Linked DNA regions of Homo sapiens. The protein of the gene in region 2 interacts with the protein of the main gene of each other region in a pairwise test. Each region holds a gene or a part of one and is shown on either strand. Other genes may lie near its edges. The genes, in order: KRT16, TTC23, FSD2 and CTNNA3.

Evidence for each region.
Region 1: the proteins of TTC23 (region 2) and KRT16 interact in binary tests that used the Homo sapiens proteins (3 or more experiments, as listed by UniProt).
Region 3: the proteins of TTC23 (region 2) and FSD2 interact in binary tests that used the Homo sapiens proteins (3 or more experiments, as listed by UniProt).
Region 4: the proteins of TTC23 (region 2) and CTNNA3 interact in binary tests that used the Homo sapiens proteins (3 or more experiments, as listed by UniProt).

What each region holds. Positions count from the first base shown.
Region 1 is NC_000017.11:41,609,736-41,617,246, forward strand, and holds KRT16 (keratin, type I cytoskeletal 16), read right to left. Parts: upstream 3,033-7,511; 5' UTR 2,954-3,032; coding exon 2,423-2,953; intron 1,987-2,422; coding exon 1,904-1,986; intron 1,767-1,903; coding exon 1,610-1,766; intron 1,496-1,609; coding exon 1,334-1,495; intron 1,245-1,333; coding exon 1,119-1,244; intron 817-1,118; coding exon 596-816; intron 502-595; coding exon 455-501; intron 295-454; coding exon 200-294; 3' UTR 43-199; downstream 1-42. UniProt on the Homo sapiens protein: Epidermis-specific type I keratin that plays a key role in skin. Acts as a regulator of innate immunity in response to skin barrier breach: required for some inflammatory checkpoint for the skin barrier maintenance.
Region 2 is NC_000015.10:99,246,547-99,253,905, forward strand, and holds the start of TTC23 (tetratricopeptide repeat protein 23), read right to left. Parts: upstream 3,036-7,359; 5' UTR 2,625-3,035; intron 1,765-2,624; exon of another isoform or gene 1,667-1,764; coding exon of another isoform or gene 1,642-1,666; intron 1-1,641. UniProt on the Homo sapiens protein: Participates positively in the ciliary Hedgehog (Hh) signaling.
Region 3 is NC_000015.10:82,761,052-82,768,086, forward strand, and holds part of FSD2 (fibronectin type III and SPRY domain-containing protein 2), read right to left. Parts: intron 4,981-7,035; coding exon 4,847-4,980; intron 4,248-4,846; coding exon 4,115-4,247; intron 1,228-4,114; coding exon 1,051-1,227; intron 1-1,050.
Region 4 is NC_000010.11:65,912,019-65,915,226, reverse strand, and holds the end of CTNNA3 (catenin alpha-3), read left to right. Parts: 3' UTR 1-2,704; downstream 2,705-3,208. UniProt on the Homo sapiens protein: May be involved in formation of stretch-resistant cell-cell adhesion complexes.

The DNA.
Region 1 (7,511 bases), on a different chromosome or scaffold from region 2:
GCAACTCCCCTCCCATCAGTTCAAGAACAGAGATCACACAGGTTTGCATCAACCAGAAAGTCAGCTTTATTAGCCCACCACCAGCAGAGGAGCAGGGGAGATAGCTGGGAACTGCGCCAGGAGAGCAGGGTCCTGACCCGGGCCTTCAGGAGGTGAGGCCAGCTGGTGGGCAGGAGGCTGTGGTAGAGGCAGCTCAGTTCTAGGAGCTCTGGCCCTGGCTGAAGCTGGATGAGCTCTGCTCCTTGAGGATGGGCCGGGTCTGACGGCTCGAAGAGGACGAGGAGGAGGTGAAGACTGTGGGAGAGAGAAGAGGAGGTGAGAAGGGGTCTGAGAGCTAAGCTGACTCCAGGGCAGGGAGAAGGGAGGGCTGGGAGCTCTGAGGAGAAGGGCCCAGCCCCCACTCCATGGAAACAGGCAGAGGGGCTGCAGTGCCGGGGAGCCTCAGAAGCCTTACCCTCGCGGGAAGAATAGGATTGGCCAGATGCTTGCTGGGAGGAAAGGCTGTGGGAGAGAAAAAGCAGGGCAGTCAGTTGTGCTGAGAGCAGCAGGGGGGCTAAAGGGTCTGGGAGGCAGAACTGAGGGGCCTGGGACTCACTGGGCATCCTCGCCCTCCAGCAGGCGGCGGTAGGTGGCAATCTCCTGCTCCAGCCGCGTCTTCACATCCAGCAAGATCTGGTACTCCTGGCTCTGCTGCTCCATCTCACAGCGTAGCTGGGCCAGCTGCTCCTCCACACTGCCAATCAGTCCCTGGATCTGGGACAGCTGCATGCAGTAGCGGCCTTTGGTCTCCTCCAGGCTGTTCTCCAGGGATGCTTTCTGCAAGTGAGAGAGAGAAAAAGAGTCCATGGAGGTGGTCACTCCTGTTCCTCCAGGTCTCTGGGCATGTTTTTTGAGAGATGCCTGGATTTTGATCCCAGTTGGGGTACTGATGGGCCAGACAATATGGAGAAAAGCTAGCCCACTATTCTAGGGCTTAGTTTCTCTATCTATATAACGGTCCCATGAGTCCCCTGGTCCCATCCTGAGAAAAGAAAGGTGGAACTAGACTGTGGCTTTTTGAGGGGGTGGTGGCCATTACTGGTGACTTGGGGGCTGCTGCTGTGCTGGGTCCTTCATACCATGCTGAGCTGGGACTGCAGCTCAATCTCCAGGCCCTGGAGCACCCTCCGGAGCTCCGTCACCTCACTGCGGCTGCTCTGTACCAGTTCGCTGTTGGAGGCCACTTCTTTGTTCAGCTCCTCGGTCTGAGGCAGGAAAGCAGAGTGAAAGGTGAGGCTCTCCCAAAGCCCCCAGCTGGGAAGTGCTGCAGGCTCACTGCGGGCCCGAGCCCCACCTTGCTCAGGAACCAGGTCTCAGCGTCTCTGCGGTTTTTCTCTGCCATCTGCTCGTACTGGTCACGCATCTCATTCAGGATGCGGCTCAGGTCCACGCCAGGTGCAGCATCCATCTCCACGTTCACATCTCCGCCGGTCTGACCTCTCAGAGCAAGCATCTCCTGGGAAGGGATGGCAGGAGGCGGTCAGTTCAGCAGACTTCTCTCCTGGCCCTGGGTGCATCTGGCAACCCCACCAAACCAGCCTCCCACCCCGGAAGCCAGCAGCGACCGTACCTCCTCGTGGTTCTTCCTCAGGTAGGCCAGCTCCTCCTTCAGGCCTTCGATCTGCATCTCCAGGTCAGTCCTGGCCAGGGTCAGCTCATCCAACACCCGGCGCAGGCCATTGACGTCGGCCTCCACAGTCTGCCGCAGGGCCAGTTCATGCTCATACCTGGCAGGACAGAGGTCAGGTCCTCAGGCTGCAGCCCTGAGGATTCTGAGGCTCGGGGTCTGCTGGCCCTGCTGGGTGGACCGCCCCACTCTTTGTCCCTTGCCCTCTGCCCCCAGCCCACCATGCTGGCTGCTCACTTGGTCCTGAAGTCATCGGCTGCCAGCCTGGCATTGTCAATCTGCAAAATGGGCTGCGCATTCTCAATGGTGGCCGCAATGATCTGGAGTGGGGATGGAGGACAGGAGCCCTGGTCAGCCAAGGACCTTACTACTTGAGCATGAAAGGCAGAAAGGGGCAAAAGGAACCGCCCCAAATCTGGAAGTCTTCTGGCTGGCAGGGCTGGCATGCCTTCTCCACCAGCTCAGGCTACGTAGGGATGCACTCCATCCCGATCACCCCCTTCCTGGGCCCAAGGCAGGGAAGCTGAACTTGCAGCTGAACCCTTGAAGGAAATAAGAGATTTAGGGTAACAGCCCCAGTCCGGGCACAGAGATACTGAAAAGGGACCCTCTGCTACCACTTCCCTGGGTGATCCTGGCCACTCCCCAAAGGTGCCCAGTCTCCCTGTTTGTAAAGTGTAATTGCTAAAAAGAGGTATCCCAAGGGCCACTGTAGCCCCAGCCTCTCTCAGTGCTCCATACACCAAAGTCACCCACCTTGTTCCTCAGGTCCTCGATGGTCTTGAAGTAGGGACTGTAGTCTTTGATCTCACTGGGCCGCTGCCTCTGGTACCAGTCACGGATCTTCACTTCCAGGTCGGCGTTGGCCTCCTCCAGAGCACGCACCTTGTCCAGGTAGGAGGCCAGGCGGTCATTGAGGTTCTGCATGGTCACCTTCTCACTGCCCACCAGAAGCCCATCACCACCAGCAAAACCACCACCAAAGCCAGCACCCAAGCCACCACCGAAGCCAGCACCAAGGCCACCACCATATCCTCCCCCGAAGCCACTACCAAAGCTGCTGCTGCTGCTGAAGCCACCGCCATAGCCGCCCCCCAGCCCGCAGGCTCCCCCAGAGGAGAAGCGAGAGGAGACAGACAGGCCGCCCCCGTAGGTGCTGGGGGCACGGCAGGACCCTCCGGCCAGGACGGAGGAGATGCGGCTGGAGCCGCCCCCGATGCCGCCTCCGATGCCGCAGGAGCCCTTCATGGAGCTGGAGGAGGTGAACTGGCGGCTGCAGGTGGTCATGGTGCCAAGGAGGGAGGTGAGCGAGTGAGCAGTTGGCTGAAAGAAGGAAAGGTGCTCAGGAAGGCTGAGAGCGTGCTGTGGCTGCCTCCAACCCCAGAGACCTTTATATGCAGCTGGGGAAGGCGGGGCCCTCCTAACTGCTGACTCCAGGTTCCCCTCTGGATTTCATCACTCCCGGTCCCGTCCAACTCCTCACTCTGGATTATTCAGCCCAGGATCAACTCTGCTGTGTGCCGGCTCAGAGTTCCCACCCAGCTTTGGGGGTGTGGGGCCGAGAGAAAAACACAGAAATGCGAGTTCGGTGGTGACTCAGGCTAGGCGGTGGGGAATCAGGCTCCCTTTCCTGGAGCCCTCGGGGCCAGTCGGGCCTTGGCACAGGTGGCTTTGTGGCAACTGCGTCCCCAGGCAGTGAGTCAGCCCTTCAGAAGAACTCCCTGCCCCACAGTGACAGCCTTGGCTGAAAGAGAGCTCAGTGATGCCATCCTGGGCTGTCTTGGGGAGCAGTTGTGGGGATCCCACATGTCCCACTCTGGGCAGGGGCAGAGTTCCTGTCTTCACTCTGCTTGCTGTGTGGCCTGAGGCTCCCCACCTCCCACCTCTGGGCCTGTTTCCCCTCAGTGACCAGGCTGGACTGGGTGACTGCAGAGTCCCTTCTGTTCTAAAAATCCTATAACTCTCTTTCCCCTCTTGGATCTAATTCCAGTTCCAGAGGCTGCCTTGAGCCCCCGGGATCTCCAGAAGTGTGTGCACCATACAAACAGCACTGGCCATGGAGCTAGACAGGCGGCACTGAGTCCCTGCTCTGCCCTTACCAACTGTACAGCACAGGCTGGTCCTATAGCCCCTTGGTCCTCAGTTTTCTCATCTGTAAAAGGGGATGACACACCACTAGCCACAAAGAAACATGCGCGAAGGACCCCACCGGCCCTTCCCCGAGGGCCAGCCCTGCCCCTCAGCCTCCCCATCCTGCCCCTCCAGCCACCTGCTCCTCACACTCACCTCTACACACTGGCACCATCCCGCACCCCTAAGCAGGGCCCTGCGCCCCCCACACTCCCAGCTGAAGAACACCACAGCCCCACACCTAGCTCTGCCACTCCTCTACCGCCCTCTCCTAATCACAGGCACCCCACCTGCAGGCTGGTGGGAGGGAGCCCCATCCTGCCACTACAGCCAGGTATGACCCCTGACCCCACCTGGGCCTCAGAGTCCCCCCCTACCCTGTAGAAACAGGACTAGCCGGGGATCCGTTCCCAGCAGTTCTCTCTCCTGTGTCCACAGATCCCAGGCTAGGCCTGGCAGCTCCATTCATCCAGCTGAGCTGGGGGAGAGCACTGGTTATGGGCCCACTCAGGCATGCATGGAGAGCCCAGTGTGTGCCATACAGTTCTGTGAGCGTAGAGATTCACTCAAAGTCACTCTGCTTTAAGCTGCAGAGCTGCAACTAGAACCCAGAACTCTGGCCCTCTCCAGGCTCCCACCATGCCTGCAGGCGGGGCCAGTATACCCAACTCTCACCCACCTCCCCACGATCACTGGCAGGAGGTCTGCCCATGGTGGGCATGGCCTTGGCCTGAGAGCCTGGTCCAGCACCGAGGACTGGAGGGAGGATGGAGGGGTCTGGGCACCAAGACGGGGCCTCCTCAGGGTGCTGTGGGGCATCCCTCGGTGCTGGCCACTGGCCTTGCTCTGCAGTGTCTCTGTTGAGGTGAGGAGCCCAGAGACAGCCTGCTTCTGCCTGAGCTCCACTGGGGCAGGCAATTCCTTGTCTCAGCAGAACCAGGGTTTTGTCACTGCTACATCTCCCCTGGTCATTCATCCCAGAGGTAAGAGCAGAACGGATGCACATCCCTTCAGAGTCAAACCTGGGAGAGGGAACCTGACACTCCTCACCCCTACCCCAAAAAGGGGCAAAGGGGACCCCGGAATCTTGGACAAAAACCTCAGTGTTCAGGTGTCAGGTTGGGCCTGGAGTTCTGGTCCATCCACAGACCCATCACCCTCAGAACTGAAAATGGTCTTCAAGGTCACCAAAGGCTATTAATACCCCAACTGGAGAGAGCGAAAGCCTTATCCAGGTTAAGCAGCACAAAAGTGAGAGAGCAGAGACTCGAGCCAGCTCTAACTCCCAAGCCAGGATTCACACCGACTCTCGTAGTAGAGTCTCTGAGAACTCTTCACTCTCTGCCCCCATCGTGTGTGCATGCACACACACCCCTTTCTCATTGGCTCACTGCCCCCCACCAAGTTCCCCATTCCAGGAGGTGTCAGGGCGGGATTATACACAAGCCCAGCACTGCAGACCTGGGGATCTGCATGGGCTGAGAAGCTGCAGGAAGTTGCTGACCAACGCGCCAAACTGCTCAGCCAACTCCATAGATCACGCACCTGCTGTGTGTACAGCTCTCGGGGGCTGGGGGTGAAGAGGGAGATGATGACATAGTCTCTGACCTTAGAAGAACTTATCATTTGACCCTGGAGGGAAAACTAATGCTGGAAAATACAGAACCTGGCTAGAAACCCTGGGGTGCTGGGCTTGCCTGCCATGCCCACACCACAGGAGGCAGCTGGGGTAGGCATTGCCCCGCTGAGCCTCAGCAGTAGAGGAGGGGGCTGCCCTCCTGGCCTTGATCCCTGAAAGGGTCCTAGCAGAGAGAGGCACCAGCAGGGCCTCAGAGGATCTGAGTTGACAGAGGAGGAGGAGGAGGCGTTTCCTGTGCACCAGTGATGCACACCTGCCCCAAGGTGGCCAAGAGCCAGGACCACTAAGCCTGGTGAGCACAGAGAAGCCCAGTGGGCATCCTCCAGGCAGAGGATTCCTCCCCACACCCTGCCTCCTTCCTCCCTCCTTCGTACTGCCCATGTCAAGCATGAGGCATGAGATCATGGCATACCTGAGGCAGCCGGGAAACACCATTGGCCAATGCCACGCCTTGACTTGCAGTGATTCTCCAACCAGACAGATCGTCAGAGTCCCCATGAAGATTTGCAGCCCTGCTCCAACTCCCGCATCAGCACCGCTCAGGACAAGCCTGCTGGTGGGGCTGTTTTACAAGCTCCCCAGCCAACTCAGACTGGGAAGGCAGGAGGCAGCTTGGGGGCTAAGGAGGGGGGCAGAGAAGCTGAGGGGAGAGAGGGGGCTGCTGCAGGGCCCCCAGCCTCGGGTGGACAAGCCAGAGCCACAGGCTTCAGGGCAGGAGGAAGGAAAAGTAGAGCCCCACTGAGCCAGGACAGAGCAGCCTAGAATCGGGGCAAGCAGGGGCGAAATCTTGGGCAGGACATTCAGCCTCTCTGAGCCTCAGTTTCCTTCTCTGGGAAATGGGAATAACAGCCTTGCCTCACAGGCATATTAGGGGATTCGAGGCCAAATAAATAAAGCACCTGGAAAAGGCTGGTGGCTAGCGTTATGTTTATGAGCAGGTGTTTATAAAGTGCCTACTATGTGCCTGGCACTGTGCTGGGCACTCAGACTCAAAGAACAAGACAGAGAAGCCCTGGAGACACAGTCTTCTGGGGGAGAAGGTGGTAAAGACAATCCCAATACACTAATGTCAGGCCACGATGGGGTACTGGGGCCCTGCAGAGAAACAGAGAGAGCAGGGTCCCTGGGGGAGAACAAATGTCCAGGCCCAGGCTCTGCCCCTGTGACGGCTCCCGGGATCTGGGGAAATCTGTGAGTGCCAGGCCCACCTCTGGGGCTCCTATCCCCTCCTGCATGTTTGATGCCCCCCTTCTGAAGGTGGGGCTGTCATAGCCCTTCACAATCCAACCACAGATCTGCAGCTTCTGCCTTGATGATGGGGTGAAACATTCTGTGCATTGGGCAGGGTGGGTGTGGACGAACTGTGAGTCCCTCCATGAGTCCCATAGCTGGGTCTCCAGTCCAGCCCAGGCACATGTCCTCAGCAGCCTGGGCCCACTTGGGGTGCCTGTTCTGCACAAACAAGGAGCCCGGACTCCTGTGTGAGTCTCAGGAAACCCACAAGAGGGGCTCCCATTGCCCCCACCCCAGGAATGTGAGCAGGAAGCTGGTGCCTCCAGGGAAGGCTGCGGACCCCAGGGGGTTGTGGGAGAAAGAGTGGGCCTCTCTCAGGGATGTTTCTTCAAATGGTCACTACAGCTCAGGGTGAGGACGGGCCTCTGTCCAGCTCAGTTATCCCCTCAGCTCTGTGCATGGGGGGAGACCTGCCTGGCTCTGTTCCCTCTGTTCCCCTCATCTCCCCAAAACCTGGGTTGCCACAAGAGACCCACACTGCATAAAGGCTGAGGGACTGTTTTCAGTCCCTCAGGTCCCCTCGGGGCAGGCACTATCTCTTGGGGTCAGGACCGGTGTCTCCTCCTTCCCCTGGCAGGATGTCCTGCAGGGAGATGGATGTAGTGGGGGACACTCATCTCCCCCTGGACATGCTACCAGGTCAGCCCCTGCAAGGGGGATCCAGAGGTAGGCTACCACTGGCATGGACCTGGCCTGAGAATCATATGTGTGTGTCCATCACTCAAGACCAGGTGTGGCAGCTCCAAGGGCAACCACAGATCTGCAGCTTCTGCCTTGATGACA
Region 2 (7,359 bases):
AGAGGTTGCAGTGAGCTGAGATCGAGCCACTGTACTCCAGCCCGGGTGACAGAGTGACACTCCGTGTCAAAAAAAAAAAAATTTATTAACATGGGCTGGCGCGATGGCTCATGCCTGTAATCCCAGCACTTTGGGAGGCCAAGGCAGGTGGATCACGAGTTCAGGAGTTCGAGACCTGCCTGGCCAACATGGTGAAGCCCCGTCTCTACTAAAAATACAAAAAATTAGCTGGGCGTGGTCGTGGGCACCTGTAATCCTAGCTACTCGGGAGGCTGAGGCAGAAGAATTGCTTGAACCCGGAAGGTGGACATTGCAGTGGGCCGAGATCGTGGCACTCTGCACTCCAGCCTGAGCGACAAAGCGAGACCCAGTCTCAAACAAACAAACAAACAAACAAAAACCAAAAAAACCAAAAAACAATCAGTAACAAGATGACAACTCAATTAAAAAAATAGGCAAAATATTTGAAAGACATTTTACAAAAGAAGATATATGGATAGTCAACAAGCACATGAAAAGATGCTTCATATCGTCAGTCATCAGGAAAATGCAAATGAAAGCTGTAATAAGATACCACTTAAAATCCAGCTGAATGACTACAATGAATAAGACAGATCATAAGGAGTGTTGGTGAGGATGTGGACAAATTGGAACCCTCATACACTCTGGTGGAAATGTAAAATGGGAAATTCACCTTGGAAAGCAGTTGTGCAACACCTTGAAAAGTTACACCCAGAGTTACCATATGACAGTAATTCCACTCGTAGATATACACCCAAGAAAACTGAAAACACACGTTCATACAAAAACTTGTACCCATCTTCATAGCAGCATTATTCATAATGCTAAATACTGTACTGTATTTACTGTAATACAATTACAATTAGTACAATTAAACACTATATTTAAATACTAGAAGAAATCCAAATGTCTGTTAATTGGTACTGTTAAATAAAATGTGGATTATTACTTAGCAATAAAAAGGAATGAAGTAATGAGACATACTACAACATGGATGAACCTCAAAAACATTATGCTAAGTAAAAGAAACTAGATGCAAAGGATCGCATAATGTGTAATTCCACTTACATGCCCAGAAAAGGTAAATTTATAGACAGAAAGTTTTTTAGTGATTGGGGCTGGGGATAGGAAACCAGGACTTGCCTGCAAATGGGCACAAAGTATTTTTTTAGGATGATGAAAATTTTCTAAATTTTCTAGGATGATGAAAATTTTCTAAATTTTCTAGGATGATGAAAATTTTCTAAATTTTCTAGGATGATGAAAATTTTCTAAAATTGGAATGTGGTGATGGTTGTGATTTTCTAAAACAATCATTGAGTTATATCCTTAAGACAAATGAACTTTATAATATATAAATTATACTTCATTAAAGCTGTTAAAAATAGCTATGAAACCACAACGCAGTTTTATGTGTAATTCTGGTTTTTATACATATTATGACAAGACTTTTATAAAGACGGGGCAACCATGACTCCCCAAGACAGTGTGGCAGCGGTCCCCAAAAATCTTAAAGAAGTAAACTCAATGCTTTCGAAGACTACAAAGAAGTGCATCAAAATTTATATTATTCAACAATGATAAGGTAAATGTATTCGGGTAAGAAGCATGGTTACTAACCTGTGTGCCAGTATTTACACAGCATGGGGCCCCTTAGCTTCTGGTCTCTGCTCTGGTCTAGCCATCTTAAATTCCACTGTCAGTTTTATTGTCTTCAAATATTACTTTCATAAGGGGTGCCTCCTGTTCCAAACACAGGACCCAAACCCCTGATTTTGGGAATTCCGGCTCTTTATATTTCTCATGCTGCTTTTTAAAATTTGTAACCAAAGTTTCCAAATGAACCTTCTGCCGCAGTCAGAACCAACTCTTCCTCAGGCTGCATGTATTTGCTAACAACTCACTCACTAGTAGGGATGCCACTTCCCTTATTTTTCTCTCTGAAATTCTGCCCATTGCTCAGGCCCAAATTGAGTCTTACCCATACTGTGAAGCCTTCTCTGAATAATTCATCTCACATTGAGCTGAGCTCCTGAAGCACCTGTGCTCTACAACAGTCATCCGGGCATTAAGAACTGTTCAGAAGTTTTAGTTTAAATGTTCTGAGCCTCATTTGTCCCTGCTCTTGAGGGGCTGGATTTTATTACTTTATATTCCCCTATATGGATTAACACAGGCAACTTAAGAAATAGTCATGTTCATCAACGTTTCCTTGATAAATTCTTTTGTATTTGTTTTAATTAAAAATGTCATTTTTGAAATATGATTGCTGGATTTTTTTGAGAATTTACCCTTACATGCTGATTCTGCTTCAGGTATCTGTAGTATGTTTTGTTCAGCCATTAGCAGATCTGTCCCTGGAATCCCTAATCCACAAATATACACAAAATTTGGGTTCAAGCAACTCTATTTTCTCCTATATCTTTTAATAGATATATTATCTATTATGCCAGGTATGACAATATATAAACAAAAATATCCATATAAAAATTACAATATTACTAAATGTCCTTCTAAATCCACACTTAAGCAACAATAACGAAGCACAGTTTCTTAAAGTAGAAAATGATCTATAGTTAATCTTATTATCTTGCCTCCTTTACCTTTCAAAAATCCACTGATAATCTGGGCATGATGCTTTCAAACTTCACCCTAAAGAGAAAAATGCTCTCTGAACACTCTTCTTCCTGCTGTCTTTAAATTGTGCCTGTATTTTCTCTGCTTTTCCTTTGACACTCAATCACTCCTTTAAAACTTGTAAAAAACCGGAAAAGTTTCTGTAACTCTCCAATCTCCAACTATGTCGTAAAATCCCTTGCCAGTTTACCCAGTCTGCTGGAGAGGCTCACCGTTTCTTTTTCGAGCGAATTACACAGTTGTCTTGGCAGCGTGATTTGCCCTCTGGTTCCTGCTTTATCAGTTTGGTGATTCTTTGTACAGATTGATAACCATGAAAAAGTCTAAAGTAGGGCAGTTCCGGAGCAGCCTTTTCCCATAAAGCAAGCGGGTACCTCACAAAACTCCAGGCAAAAGAATGAATGATAGAGCACTCACCAATAGCGAGTGGAGAAGAGTATTTTGTCGAAGTTTGCAAACCAATCTTTGGGAGCCAGAGGTGGGAATTTTAAAATGAGGTCTTTTCCTTGGAATTTTCTTAAAGTGGTATCGTTGCCTGTTGATATTGAAGTTTGTCAAAGAACGTGAAATCACCAGCTTAGAGGATTTTTTTCCCCTTTAAGAGAGACAAAACGTGCGAATTGATTCTCTACAAATTGTGAGAACTTCAAGAGTGGGGTCATAAAGTATTATCAAATATAATCACTTGGTAACTTTTGTGTCAATGTGGGGAGGAGGTGAAGGTTATTTTAACATGATTCATTTTTCATGATCAAATATCAGATATTAATCACTGAAAAACAGTATTCCCCATTAAAAAAAAGAAATGAAAACTAAGAGGCTAACATTGTTTTCAAAAAACTGTTCTACTGTTAATCTTTTTTCTTTTTTGGGGGGTGTAACTCTTCATATATTAGCAGCAAGTCTTATTATTTGGGCTGACCATTAAACACCGTATCTTTGTTTTTACACAAAATGTGGATTTCCTCATTTTAAGACCAGCAAAAAATTTCTGAGTGCCACGAATTCTTAGGTATTCCGAAACTATCTTAGAAATACATGACATATACCAACCATGCTGTATACCTGAATAGCTCTTGAAGACCAGATTTAATAGATAACTGATAATTTTTATTATAACTCATACCTTGTTTTAAAACCAATGTTTTTTATTTAATATAACTCTGCTTTCTAGGTTATTCGTCTCTATGAATAATTAAGTCAGCAACTGTAAAAACTACTTCATTATAAAGTTAAAGTTCCTTGACAAGGAGCCTCGCAAACTCATAGACAGGCTTTCCACAGAACAAAAAATATCAGCGGTTGTAGTAGAGGATTATACTTTAAAATCTTCATTTCAGAAGGAAATTTGTCATATTAATGAGACACTTTAAAAAGTGTCTTTTAAAAATGTTTCCGAACTATGCTTCCAAGTATTTTTAACAGCATAAAGCCCTCTTTCATGCTATTTCGCTGACATAATAATTTTCGTCTTGAAGAAATACATATTGACGGCCTACTCAGTCAGGCTAGGAAGTGTCATTGTATTTAACTCTCTAAATTGTTCCTGACCTTTTTAGCAATCTTTACTCAAAATAAACCTTGGGTGTTTGAAGGGCAGAGACTAGGTTACGTCCTCCTCATCTTTGTTATCTACCAGTTCGTAGTGACCCCTTAAATCCGGTGCTTAGACTCACTACTTGCTAAATAACGTTGGCTTCGTTACATAAACCCACTGGCCTGTTTTTCAACGGTCAGACTGGCGCTGTTAGTCCCTGTGTCATGGGATTGCTGTCAAGGGTTCAACGAGATAATCTATAAACAGCTCTTAGAACGAACGCTCAACGTGGGATCATTGTTGTAATCCCTCAACGTGTGCTCTGAATGAGAAGCCGAGTGACTGAATGAATGTATGAATGAAGGAACAGGTCAGTAACTGGCGGTTCCCGAAGTTGGAGCCGACTAAATTACCCCTTCAAGACGCTAAGCAAAAGCCACTCCGTCGACATCAAACCCCACGCCGGAGCCGGAAGCAAGAGTAGAGCCGCGGGCGGGGCCAGCATAGAGGAAGTAGCGCTCTCGGCCAATACACAGATCGCTTGGCAAACGAGCATTTTCCCGCGCCTATCGTGAAAGCGCGAGAACACAGGGGATTATCGCGAGGTTCCGTGCTCCTCTCCCGCTCCCTCTTCCCCAGCTCCCTCTGGCGCGGGTTCCGCTCCACCCCCGGAGCCCCGCCCCCGACGCCCGGCGCTCCGCCCCGCCCTCGCCTGGCTCCCTGCCCCGCCCCGCCCGCCGTCCCCCGCTTGGCTTCCAGCGCCGCTTGCGCTCCGGAGCGCTGGCTCTGCTGGCGCTGAGGTGAGTAGAGCTGTCCGCCTCGTCGGGTGATTCAAGTGGCGAGGCTCTCTGACCCGGCCCCCCGGCGGGGACGCCCCAGACGTGGTCCTGCCAAAGCGTCCGGGTCGCGGCGAGTGGGACAGCGGAGCCGTCCGGGCCTCGGGTGGCCACAGCTGCCGGGTCCTCCTCCCACTCTGCGGCCCGCGGCCCCTGGGACCCGAGAACCCTGATACCGGGTCCGTGAAATCCCTGCTGCTGGGCTCGCTGCTTCCCAACTGTAACGATCTCAGTGGCTGGCTAACTCGGGCGAAACGGCGTGTGTTTTGCCTAAGACTCTGCCAGTGTTTGTTACCACAGCTGAGAAAATAGCCTTTTACAAATGCTTTTAATATGTAGCTTATAGTTCTCTAATCTCCAGCGTTAGGAAATTGGAATGCGTATTCTACTAAATTGAGTACGGGGAGGTCAGTATAAGGGACTCCTTCCTTTCAAAATACTCCTTAATATGTGTGGAATTTTGTTGAGAGGTTTTTGATTTTTTTGTTTTGTTTTTAATAATAAGATAGATTGGTGTTCACCTGTCAGAAAGCTCGTGTGTAAGTGCAGCTGTATACAGCTGATATTAAGTAATACTATTTGCCTTAACTACATAAGAGGTAGTATAACTATACAAGAGGTAGTTTGCTTAACTAGGTAAGATGTAGTCAAGTGAAATGGGGTAAGAAAATTACCTTGTTAAAGGCTGTGTATGGCCCGTGAATGCATACTGCAAAACTGTGAGCATTGTTGATGCTTTATTGCTATTATTGGCAGTTTTAGGATTTCATTTGTTTAGATTTTATCTCCCAAACAGCCTTTGTAGCAATTTTAACAGAGTGTAATGGTGTTTTTGAGGCAGCCAATCCCAGCCAGAACATTCAGAAGGAAAGCCGTCAGGTTACAGGGACTGTCTTATTGAATCTTCCTTCAGTGAGTGTGGTTTTGCATTATAGGGCGGCGGTGCACACGCTTTGTAGTCAGTCCACCTGCGATGGAACTATGGCATGTTACCCTCTGAGAAACTCAGTTTCCTCCTCTACAAAACGGGCTACATAATGTCTATTGCAGTGCATGGTTGTAAAGATTAGACATCCTTGTGGCATGTAGCAAGCTTATAGGCTCTATCCGTGGTCTTGACATAGTTGGATGAAAAATCAACCTTGCAATGTTCTTCCACATGTCATCAGATATTAGAAGGCCTACTTTAAAATTTTAAGTCCCTGGATACATGTGCAGAATATGCCGGTTTGTTACATAGGTAAACGTGTGCCATGGTGATTTGCTGCACCTGTCAACCCATCACCTAGGTTTTAGGAAGGGTTACTTTTAGTTACTGTGCTAGATGCAGGTATGCAAGCGTGAAGAAAACAACGCAGTCCCTGCCCTCAGGATTTCTAAATAAGTTTCGGAAGGGTTTATTTACAGGCTTTTTGGCTTTATTGACAATAGACAGATGCAACGATAAATATTTAAGTGACAAATTGTGAGGAGTCCTACGAAGAAAAAACAAACAGCCAAGTTCCTCTGAAAGAACACCAGGGGAATTACTTTGGGATAGGGAAGTGATTTTTTTTTTTTTAAGACTGAGTCTCGCTCTGTCGCTCAGGTTGGAGTGCAGTGGTGCGATCTCGGTTTACTGCAAGCTCCGCCTCCCGGTTTCAAGAGATTCTCCTGCCTCAGTCTCCCGAGTAGCTGGGATTACAGGCGCCCGCCACCAAACCCAGCTAATTTTTGTATTTTTAGTAGAGATGGGGTTTCGCCAAGTTGGCCAGGCTGGTCTCGAACTCCTCACCTCAGGTGATCCACCCTCCTCGGCCTCCCAAAGTGCTAGGATTACAGGCGTGAGCCACTGCGCCCGGTCTCAGGAAGTAATTTTTATGTTGAAATCTGGAGAATGATGGGACATTGCTTTCTAGGCTAAGAGGAGACCAGCAAGTGCTGTTAGGGGTTTAGTAGCTTTGAGGATTGGAAAAGCCCAGAAGCTTGGTGAGAAGCCAAGCAGAGTTGCTGGAGAAGTGGGTGGGGGCAGATGGTGAGGCACCCTCAAGGCCTAGTATGAGTTGATTTTCTAAGTAAGAAGTTTCTGAAGGGTTTATTTAGTAAGATGTGTACCGAAAAGAGTGAGATGTAATTGGATGTACATTTTTAAAGGCCCATTGCTGGGATTAATGTGTTGGAAGTGACTAGAGTGGACACAGGGAGACTGGTAATACTGTTGGCCAGGCAGGAGATGACTGTGGCTTGTGGTTTTGGCAGATGGAGAGATTTGGATGGATTTGAGATGTATTTGGGAGATAGAGGCCACTAGCCTTGTGATAGATTGGAGGTGGTCAGAATATGAAAGGA
Region 3 (7,035 bases), about 16 Mb from region 2:
GAGGTTTAGTAGATTTCATTAGAGTCTTCATCTGTTATCGGAGGGGAAGTTGGTTTTCCCACTTATGCTTGGGCATGACACATAATGTGTAAATAACCATGATAGAGGATCATGGGCAGAGAGCATTGGATGAACATTAATAGGATTCATCAAATCAAGGAGGGTCAGAGGCCCCATTTTACAAGGTGTGATAGGAAAGCAGTGTGGGGTCTTGTTTTTCAGTTTTTGAGGTGAAGGAAGGTTGTAACCATGGCCTTCTAAGTCTGAAAGTGTATTCATTGGCCTGGGCTTCGTGAGACTTTTTTTCCCACTATATGGAACTACTCCATGTGTAAAGACAGAGTGCCCAGCAGCAGGAGCAAACCAGAATTAGCCATAACTACTAAGCCTCTTGCCCACATTTACTTAAAAAGATGGAACTGGGGCTTCAAAGCAAACTGTATTGGCTTAATACTAAAGGTGAACAGAAATGAAAAATCTATCACTTAAGTGGTTAGGAATGAAATCTTTGGAACCAGACTGCTTGAGTTTGAATCCAAGTTCCAAATCCATGTCGTTTGGATTATCTAATTGCTGTGAGGTGTGGTCTTCTTATTTTTATTCTTTTATTTTATTTTATTTTTTTATTTTATTATTTTTTTTTTTTTAGAGACGGGGTCTTGCTATGTTGCCCAAGCTGGCTTTGAAGTCCAGGGCTCAAACAATACTCCTACCTCACTCTCCTGAGTAGCTGGGACTACAGGTGCACACCACTGCACCCAGCATTCTGATTTTTCAAATGAGATAACACAATTGTGAGAAGTAAATGAGATAATGCATGTAAGAGTACTTGGCACATAATTCTCCATAAATTTTAGCTATTTTTAGTTGAAGAAAAGCTGCTCTTTCTCCTCTTACTTGGACTTTAGGGAAAGTGGCTGGCAGCAACTCCTGAAATATCTTAAAATATTTGTAAAATATAACGTGTGTCTTAATTATTGCTAGTGAAAAGGTCTTGCTGTAATCTTTCAAAAGCAAATTTTAATTGTGAGTATCCAGATTTTACTTTACCTTGATGATGCAAATGTGTGCCTCATGCACCAGGAGAGGCAATTTGCTCCCAGATCCTCCTGTTTACGGACATCTGCAAAGGCCACACCAACTCTGTAGTCCAAATGCTCATCCACCTCCACCTCCCAGTAATGGTGCCCTCGGACTGGAATTAGATTTCCCATGACAGCAACACACCTGGTTTTAGAAAGTGGAAGCATGTGTGATCTGGGGTGCCCCAAGCCTGGCTGTGCAGGTCAGTGATGCCAGTTGCTGGGATCAGTCAGTCGGTGGTCTACGAACGTGGTGGTAGGTGCTTCTGGACACTTAACTTGTAAAGTACCCTTAGCTCTCAAAGCTCAGTGGGCTGATACTGAAGATTTGAGATTATGTTACTGCTTGGTAATGGGAGAGGAGGAGGCACTAAACCAACAGAACAAGTTTTGTTTGCTCTTTAAAATGGTTGGGGCTTTCATAGAAAAAGGTTTGGTTCACTTGTTCATAAAAAAAGAAAAGGGTTGAAAATACACAACACAGCACGGTTAAGGGAACCATAAGCTTGAAGTTCACCACCATTGCTTATGGTACTAAATGAACATGGAAGGCCTTTGAGGTAGCCATCATGTTAGGGATGACTCCTGGTGGAATTCAGAGGCCAGCCCAAGGAGAACAAGATAGCAGATTCCTCACAGATCATTAAAATCTACCTCCACTGTTGCACTGGGAACAATTATACTGACAAAGATTAGAGTTATGTTTTGTTCTACATCAGCAAAGTATCAACAGAGGAAGGTTTTCAGTGAAAATCAAATTATACTGGTATCTCCAAAGTGAATATTCTACCTTCTTCAGGAGACTCCTACATTAACCAAAATATATATAGACCTCAACATCCCTAGAAAGATTTGTTCAGTTTAAAATTTTCTCTCTACTTTCAAAACCCCAAGTTCTTACTGCTCAAGCAAAGCTTTGGGAAGGAGGTTGCATGTTGGTTAACTTCTACCTCGGTTACCTCACCTATAAAATGAGGCCATCTCTGCTTCAAGCTCCAGACTCACATTTCCACTTGTTGTTTCAAATTCAGAATGTCCCAAATGGAAAAAGTCATATTCCCACCCCTCTTATCTACCAAAGTTTGGGGTGTAGTGGGGAGGGGTACATACTTCTCACATCTCCATTTTGGTTAATAGAGTCATTATCTACCCGGTAACCCCCTGGTGGAAAACTAAGATGGGAATAATGTAGTGGCTACAAGCTCACCTTCTAGTTTGATTCCTGCTTCAACCCTTAATAGCATTATACTCTTGGGCAAGTTACTTCTCTGTGTTTTAAGTATTCTCATCCGTCAACTGGGATTGGTAATAGTACAGGGCTGTTAGGATGATTGCATGAGATGAAATACATTTAGCACTTGGTAAGCACTCTATAAATATGGCAATATGATAGTCCCTGACTCATCTTCCTCTCTGTTGCCCTTTAAACAGGTGAGCACCTAGCCTTGTTGGTTTTATGTGCTCAACAGCAGTTGACTCCCCTGGCTCCTCTCACCCATGCTACTGCGTAGTCAAGCCCTCCATAGTCTCCTCTCTGGTCTCTGTTTCCCATCTGCCTTTGCCTTTCCCTCTCCCTCCCCAGCTCACGTTCTACCATGCACTGGAATCTTTCTGAAATGTAATCTGATCTTGTTCCCCTGCTTTAAATCCTCCAATAATTCTCACCACATAGAGGATAAAATCCTAACTTTTTGTGTGTATACTGGACTTTCTCCGACTTTCCTGCCTCATCTTCCACCTCTTCCCGTCATGGATCCTATACCGCAGACATACCAAATTCCTTATATTTCTCCAAACATGATCTTTCCGGCTTCTTTCATATGTACATGTACAAAGCAATTATCTGCCTTGAACTTTGGAACAGACTCACTCCATGGCCAGTTTTCCATCAGGAGTTTTGCTGTAAGGTACCACAGTGCAGGAGAGAGAGCACTGGGCTAACTGGTGGGAGACCTGGGTCCTTGTTTCTGTTCTCCCACTAGCCCACAGCATGACCCCTGTGAAGCAGGAGAACAGGGTCTGGGGGCAGGGAACCTAAGGACTTCCTAGAACTAAATTAAACGGAAAAACCCCAACCTTCTAAGTCCAAGTAAATAGCTTTGTATTTCAGCATGGCAGGAAACATCCTCTTCATTTGCATAGGGTGTACACCCAGTAAATGACTTTGTAACTTCACTTTAGCCACTTCATATACATAGGGTGTACACCAAGTAACCAGTGGGAACCTCTAGAGGATATTTAAACCCCAGAAAATTCTGTAACCCGGCCCTTAAGCCGCTTGCTTGGCCCACTCCCACCCTGTGGAGTGTGCTTTCGTTTTCAATAAATCTCTGCTCTTGTTGCTTCATTCTTTACTTGCTTTTTTTTTTTTTTTTTTTTGAGAAGGAGTCTCACTCTGTTGCCCAGGCTAGAGTGTAGTGGCGCCATCTCCGCCCCGCGGGTTCAAGCAATTCTTCTGCCTCAGCCTCCCGAGTAGCTGGGATTACAGGCACCCGCAACAGGCCCGGCTAATTTTTATATTTTTAGTAGAGATGGGGTTTCAGCATGTTGACCAAGCTGGTCTCAAACTCCTGACCTCAGGTGATCTGCCTGCCTCGGCTTCCCAAAGTGCTGTGATTACAGGCATGAGCCACCGTGCCTGGCCTCTTTCCTTGCTTTGTTTGTGCATTTTGTCCAATTCTTTGTTCAGAACGCCAAGAACTTGGACACCCTCCACTAGTAATTCCTGTCCCACCCTCATGACCTCTGGCTGCTCCAGCTCTGGCAGCCTAGGACCCAGGGACCATGCCCTCCCAGGGGACCGCGCCCTCTCCTGACCTCACCGTCCCAGGGGGCTCTTCTGCCTGCACCTGCCTGACCCCTCTTGCCCACACTCCTCTGGGTCCCCTCCCCATTAGGCTCCTCCCTCCTCACTCATTTGTAGGATTCCTTTTCCCTCGAGGCTGCCTCCGTGCCATATTCGGATTTGACCTGAATAACAGTGCACCTTCGGGAAGTTCACAGAACGCCCTTGTGAGCGGTTGACAAAGTACCTGGTGAAGTGAGTGTCGCTGGGTGACAGCTCCCTGGCGGGGGTTCTCCTTTCACTTCGTACAGCCGTAAGTCCGTCTTCAGAAATGGTCAGCCAGGGATGGCAAGTGTCCTTGTTTAGGCGAAAGTAGCTTCCTGTGGGAGGAGGAACACACAGAAGACCCGCAGCCAATCACTTGCTTTCTCCATGTGGGCGGTGGTCACCGGTTTAGCTTCGTGTGGGATACACCTAAGCCTGGACCTGGCCTAGTAATAGGCGTCCAGTTAACAAGGATGGCAATTGACACTCATCGGGCAGTCTTGTGTGCCTAGTATCCCCTTCAATCCTCACGACGACCCTTAGAAACAGGTGTCACTATTTCCATTTTGTAGATGAGGAAACAGAGGCACAAGGTGGTTAAGAAATCAGCTGGCAAATGATAGAACTTAAACTTGAACCCCAAGCCCCTCTGATTCCAGAGGCTGTGCTCTTTACCTCTAGCTGTAATGCCTGTGTATGGATAAGAATTTCTAACCTATTTGCCAAGGGAAATAGGAATTGAAGGACTTCTTAATGATCCATTTGACTTGCAATTAGGGCAGTATGGGACACCCCTGAACTCCTTCTGGCCTGACTTGCCACGTGTCCACATCTGTGCATATTCATCAATTTCCCAGTGAAGTCATAGCAGCACTGGGTCTGCCACAGAGTGGCCACTTTGGGTCCCAGAGACTTTGTGGGCTGGGGCACAGACCTATGGTGTGGACTGTAGCTGGCTCGCTCCTCACGCTGGGGCCCCCCATATTGAGGGCTCGCACATAGATAATGTAGCTCCGCCCCGGCTGCAGCTGCACCACGGACTCGCAGGTCGGGATGCCCACAACAGACCTGTACAAGGAAGCAGAGCTGCAGTCAGAATGGGGCTAGGACACCCAGGCCCAAGCACCAGGCATCCCTTTCAAAGCTGGAAGGTTTAACTCACTCTTGCGCTCCTGTCCTCTGACCCACATTTAACAGCAGCATAGCCAGGAGTGCTGGCTCCCCCTCTGCATTCCCTCCCACAGTCTCTGGTCTGCTTTTCTCACTTCATTGCTACTTCTTGTGTTTGTGGCTGTCTCCTCTCCAAGTCCCTCATTCTGGTTTCCCAGGCACCCAGCACTGTGCTTGGCATATGGTTAACACTGCATCATGGAGTGTGCATGCAGTAGAATCCAGTGTGTCTCTGTCCGTCTGTTAGGATCATAATGTCTCTGAGGTCAGGGGCTGAGTACCGCTATTCTTAGTACAGTACTGGGCCCATAGAAGGCCGTCAATTCAGCCAGGTGCAATGGCTCATGCCTGTAATTCCAGCACTTTGGGAGGCTGAGGCGGGTGGGTCACTTGAGGTCAGGAGTTCGAGATCAGCCTAGCCAACATGGTGAAACCCCGTCTCTACTAAAAATGCAAAAATTAACCGAGTGTGGTGGCAGGTGCCTGTAATTCCAGCTACTCAGGAGGCTGAGGCAGGAGAATTGCTTGAACCTGGGAGTTGGAGGTTGCAGTGAACCGAGATCATCACGCCACTGCACTCCTGGGCGACAGAGTGAGACTGTCTCAAAAAAAAAAAAAAAAAGGTCCTTGATTTATGTTTATGAGCAAACAATTCTGACTAGAGCTGAAAGTGTTAACTGCTGTTAACCCCCTAACAGCTGCCTATTGGAAATAATCCAATGTATTTAAATTGTACTATACAGAAATATAAGCTCATAATTGCCACTGTCTATATTGCTGCGGTTGCCAACCCCATGTCAGTCCAGTGGGCAAGAGAAGTCTTTAGGATGATGCCCATTTACCAATACAACACCCTCACCCAGATGAGGCCAAGTTGTCCAGGTTATCTTCAGGCTGCAGCTCTGGGCCAGAGGGGCACTTTTACTTATGCATTCAATAAATGTTAACTAAACTCCTTAGGTTCCAGGCACTGTATAGGGAGGCCCTCAGAAAAAACAAATGTAGTTCCTGCCCTCATAGAGCTTACAGTCTAGATGGGAAGAGCAGCATTCTTCAGGCAATCACTGGAAGGAATGTAAGATGGTAACCAAGACAAGTTGATAGTGTGCTGTAGTGTATAATGGTGGGGGCAGGATGGCTTTTGAGCAGAGCTCTGAAGAATGCTGAGGAGGTAACTGGATGAAAAAGGGACAGAGGAGTCTCCTACATAGGAGAAGCATGTGCCAAGGCCCTGTGGCAGGAAGGAGCATGAAAAGTAGGAGGAACTGAAACATGACCAATGTGGTGGGATCTTGAGAGGGAGGGGAGCTGGTGTGGGAGGAGCTGGAGAGGCAGGAAGGGGCCAGAGCCTGTGAAGGAGTTTTGCCTTTTCTTCAGCAATGGGTCGCCATGATTGGATTTGTACTGGAAGAATATGCACCAGCTCTCAGGTCATCTCTCAGGTTACTGACCAGCCCTCTGATGACCTCATCATTGTGAGTTGGTCCCAGGTGTCAAGTGCTCCTAAAGTATCAGCATAAATTGCAAAGGAAACCTGAACCATTAGGATGGCCAGAACCACTGGACACACTGCCCCACTCCTGAGTATCTCCAGAGTGGATTACCAAAGTCAGCCTCTGTGTGGCCATGGACACACAGATTCCACCTGGAACAGATGGATGGGTGGCATATGGCCACGTTTCAAGCCTGGCATTTAGCATAGAAGAATCTGCTTCCCTAACAATTGACACCAACACCTCTTCATTTCTCCAGCTCCAGGTCAGTGCACCCCTGTGTTCCACAGCAGGGGAGCCCCTGGTCCTGGTGGCTGGTGCTGGCCTGCCTGGGTGGTTCATCCCCTTTCACAAACTTCTGTAAACCAGAGGTAAACCTATGCTTCCTCCATCATAGGCTGCTGTAAACTCATAGGTTCTGCGAGCCCTTGTGGTCACTGAGTCCAACCCTTATCAATTT
Region 4 (3,208 bases), on a different chromosome or scaffold from region 2:
AATTCAGCCATTCTCCTGACTGATGGTAGGTGAAATTCTTCCCAATATTAGAGCCAATCTGGGTTACCATACGTTCATATATTTAACAGCTATTTGTTAAACAACTGTGATGTTCCAGGCACTGTTCTAGGTTCTTAGGATACACCATATAACAAAACAAATAGTGATCCTTGCCCTCATGTGCCAGCTCTGTGTTAAATGCTAACTATTATCTTATTCAATCCTCCAAATAACCCTATAGGATATATATCATTCCACAGACAAGGAAGCTGAGGGTTAAATGGGATAAGAATCTTGCTCAAAGTCTCACTGGCTTTAAAATATTAATATATATTTTACATCATTCAAGACAGATATATAATTAGCTGAATATTCTCACCTCTATTAACTGAATGTAGAGTGTCAGGTACATGGGAAGTAAGTTATTTACGTGATCTGAAATAAGAGGACAACCTTTGCCAAATTACTTTTATTACCATGGAGAAGAAAGCTTCAATGAAATGCCTGTTTCAGCCCATCTTCAGTATTGGTTGGTTAATACCATTTGTTAACACCAATCCTTTCCTCTTTTACTGCTAACATGTGACTGTGTTTAAAATTATAGATTGCAGCAGAGTGTTGGCCAAGGATTATTGTAGTAGGATAAAGTTTCCCTGTATTTGAAATTTACCCAAACTGTAGCAAATACATCTTTCCTTCTTTATGGAGGTCACACGTGTGCATAGTATGTGCCTGAATACAGGTAAACTTTGTGTTTTAAAATTACATGGCCTTTTTTAGAGTCGACTGAAGGCTAGACTCTTCTTGCCCATGTTGCTGGATAGGCTTTCAAATCTCAGGCCTTGGAGAGTTAAATGACTTTCTGATATTTCTTACGGTGGAGCCACATAAGAAATACACACATTCCTAGTTTGAGCAATGGATGTGTATATTGGGGATCTTCACTTTTATGTATCTGGTAGTCATGATGGTGCCTATTCCCAACTGTAGGAAAGGAAAGCCCTCAAGGAGAAAATTCTCTTTCAAAAAGGCTCAGATTTCTAACAATTATGTCTAAATGTTTCTTCAATTTAGAACATGTACAAAAGCTACTTAATATTAGCAGAGTAGTTCTTGTGTTTTCATTTCAAATGAAATATTCCCAGTTCCAAAGTTTATTTCCTTGGCATTTTCAAGAAGGATGGTTATTTTTAGTTCTGGTTATTTGGTGTTGGAGGTCTGTGACACTTCCTTATACATTTAAAGCCCCCTTTGAATAGTTGTATCAATAGTTCAAAAGCCTGTAGATATCTTGCTTTTCTATTCTGACAGCCCAGCTTCTGCAGACTCAGGCCAACCTTAGGTATGTCACATCAGTTCCCCATCTGTGTAAATTACCTGAACCTCTCTGTGGTATTCACTGAGAGTTGAGCTTCTACTAAGGGATTTCCTTGACCTGGGCTTTTAACACCAGATTTGTAGTGGAGTGTTTATTAGTAAAGCAAAGGAGTAAGTCAGAGATGCTAGCCCCTGCTCTCAGTTAAACAGAACTATCCTCCTTCCTGAATATTTAAACATAAAATTAATTTTAAACTACTATAAAAATCATGTTCCATTGCTTGCCAAATCTTATACCATTATAATGCTGTATTTTTACATGTTAGTATACATTGTGTCCATAGGGATATAAATATGAGAATTTCAGCAACTGTCTTGCAGGGTTAAGATGTGCTATTTGTTGATTTTGCAAATTTTTCTCATGTGGTACAGTCCCTCCAAAGAAAATTTCCTTAGACCTAAATGGTAGCATAATAATTTCTCCTCCATATCCGTGACTAACAAGTTCCTGAAAACAGAAGTAGACATATTTTATGCCCAATTTAGTACCTAATAATTGAGGCTTAAAACAAAATTTTCTTGGGCAAGTTGGGTGATTAAATATGAATTAAAACTTCTAGAGAAAGATTTCCAGATGCCCCTGTTTTCCATTTTGATTATGGTTTTAGTTTCATAGCAACTTGGGGGAAAAAAATCATTTACTTTATGTCGTATTACAACAACAACTTTGACAGCTTAAATGTAGTGACCTCTCTGAAGGTAATATGCACATTATAATTTAGGATGAAAGCAGATTTAAACTAAGACTTTCTGAGATGAAATAAAAGTAACCAATTCATAATAGTCATGTTTATTGCAGCAATATCTTGGGAACTTAAGTTTAGTGGCGTTTGAGGTGTTTCTGACTATCTTGCTTGTTCATTTCACCCTGCTCTGCAGAGACAGAATATGATTGAATGAACTGCCCATTATATTAATGACCAGTTCAAAGCAGTTTTGTGCTTTGGCTATAGATAAAATTTGGCAAAAATACTGTAGGCCTTTCTGGTCCATATTTATCCTTAAAGTATTTTTGCCAATCAATAAAAATGAAATATTTATCCAGAAATAGAAAAAGCTCTTTCCTATGACATTGACATAGAAGCCCAAATACTCCTTGTTTGAGACCCTGCATGTCTTTTGTGTTTAACTGAATCAATGATTTTTTTTAGTTGTGCTCTTAATTGCATTATTTCACATATGTAACACTGGGTTTGTTTTGGTTATATAGTATTATTTTACTTTATTCTAATTTCAACTCATGTCACTCTGTAGCTCATTAAGAATTTGTTCAACTGAAAATTAAAATGTGTGTTAAAGCAATAAAAATGAAAAGATTGGCTATGCATTTTATGTTGATATTTGGTGGCGGATTTCTTGGGTGGGATGAAAAAAATGGAGATTAATAAATTGCTGAGTAGTCCAACCATGTGTTTCTAAGTGTCACCTTCACTCTCATCCTCTTTCAGTTTTATATTTATAATTCAGGAAGGCACTTTTCCAAACTACTGCATGCACACAAGTAATCTGAAGCATATCTGATAGAATTAAATTCATAGTCTAAATGAGCATTTTTGGTCTAATACAGGCACTAGTCTTGGGCATTAGACATGCCTTTAATAGTTCTGTGTAGCTCAAGAGTTGTTCTTTAGCTTAGGACTTTATGAAAATGATCAATAACTTTTCTGAGAATGTCCGAACACATACTCCCTAGTGGTCATGGAATACCATTGGTTCTACCAATGCTCTTGTATCTAAAAATTGGTGGGTTTTTAACATCCATCTTGGCCTCCTCATTTTTAGGCTGATAATAATCCTTTCTCAGTATGAATCCCATGGGGTTAGCCTCTCG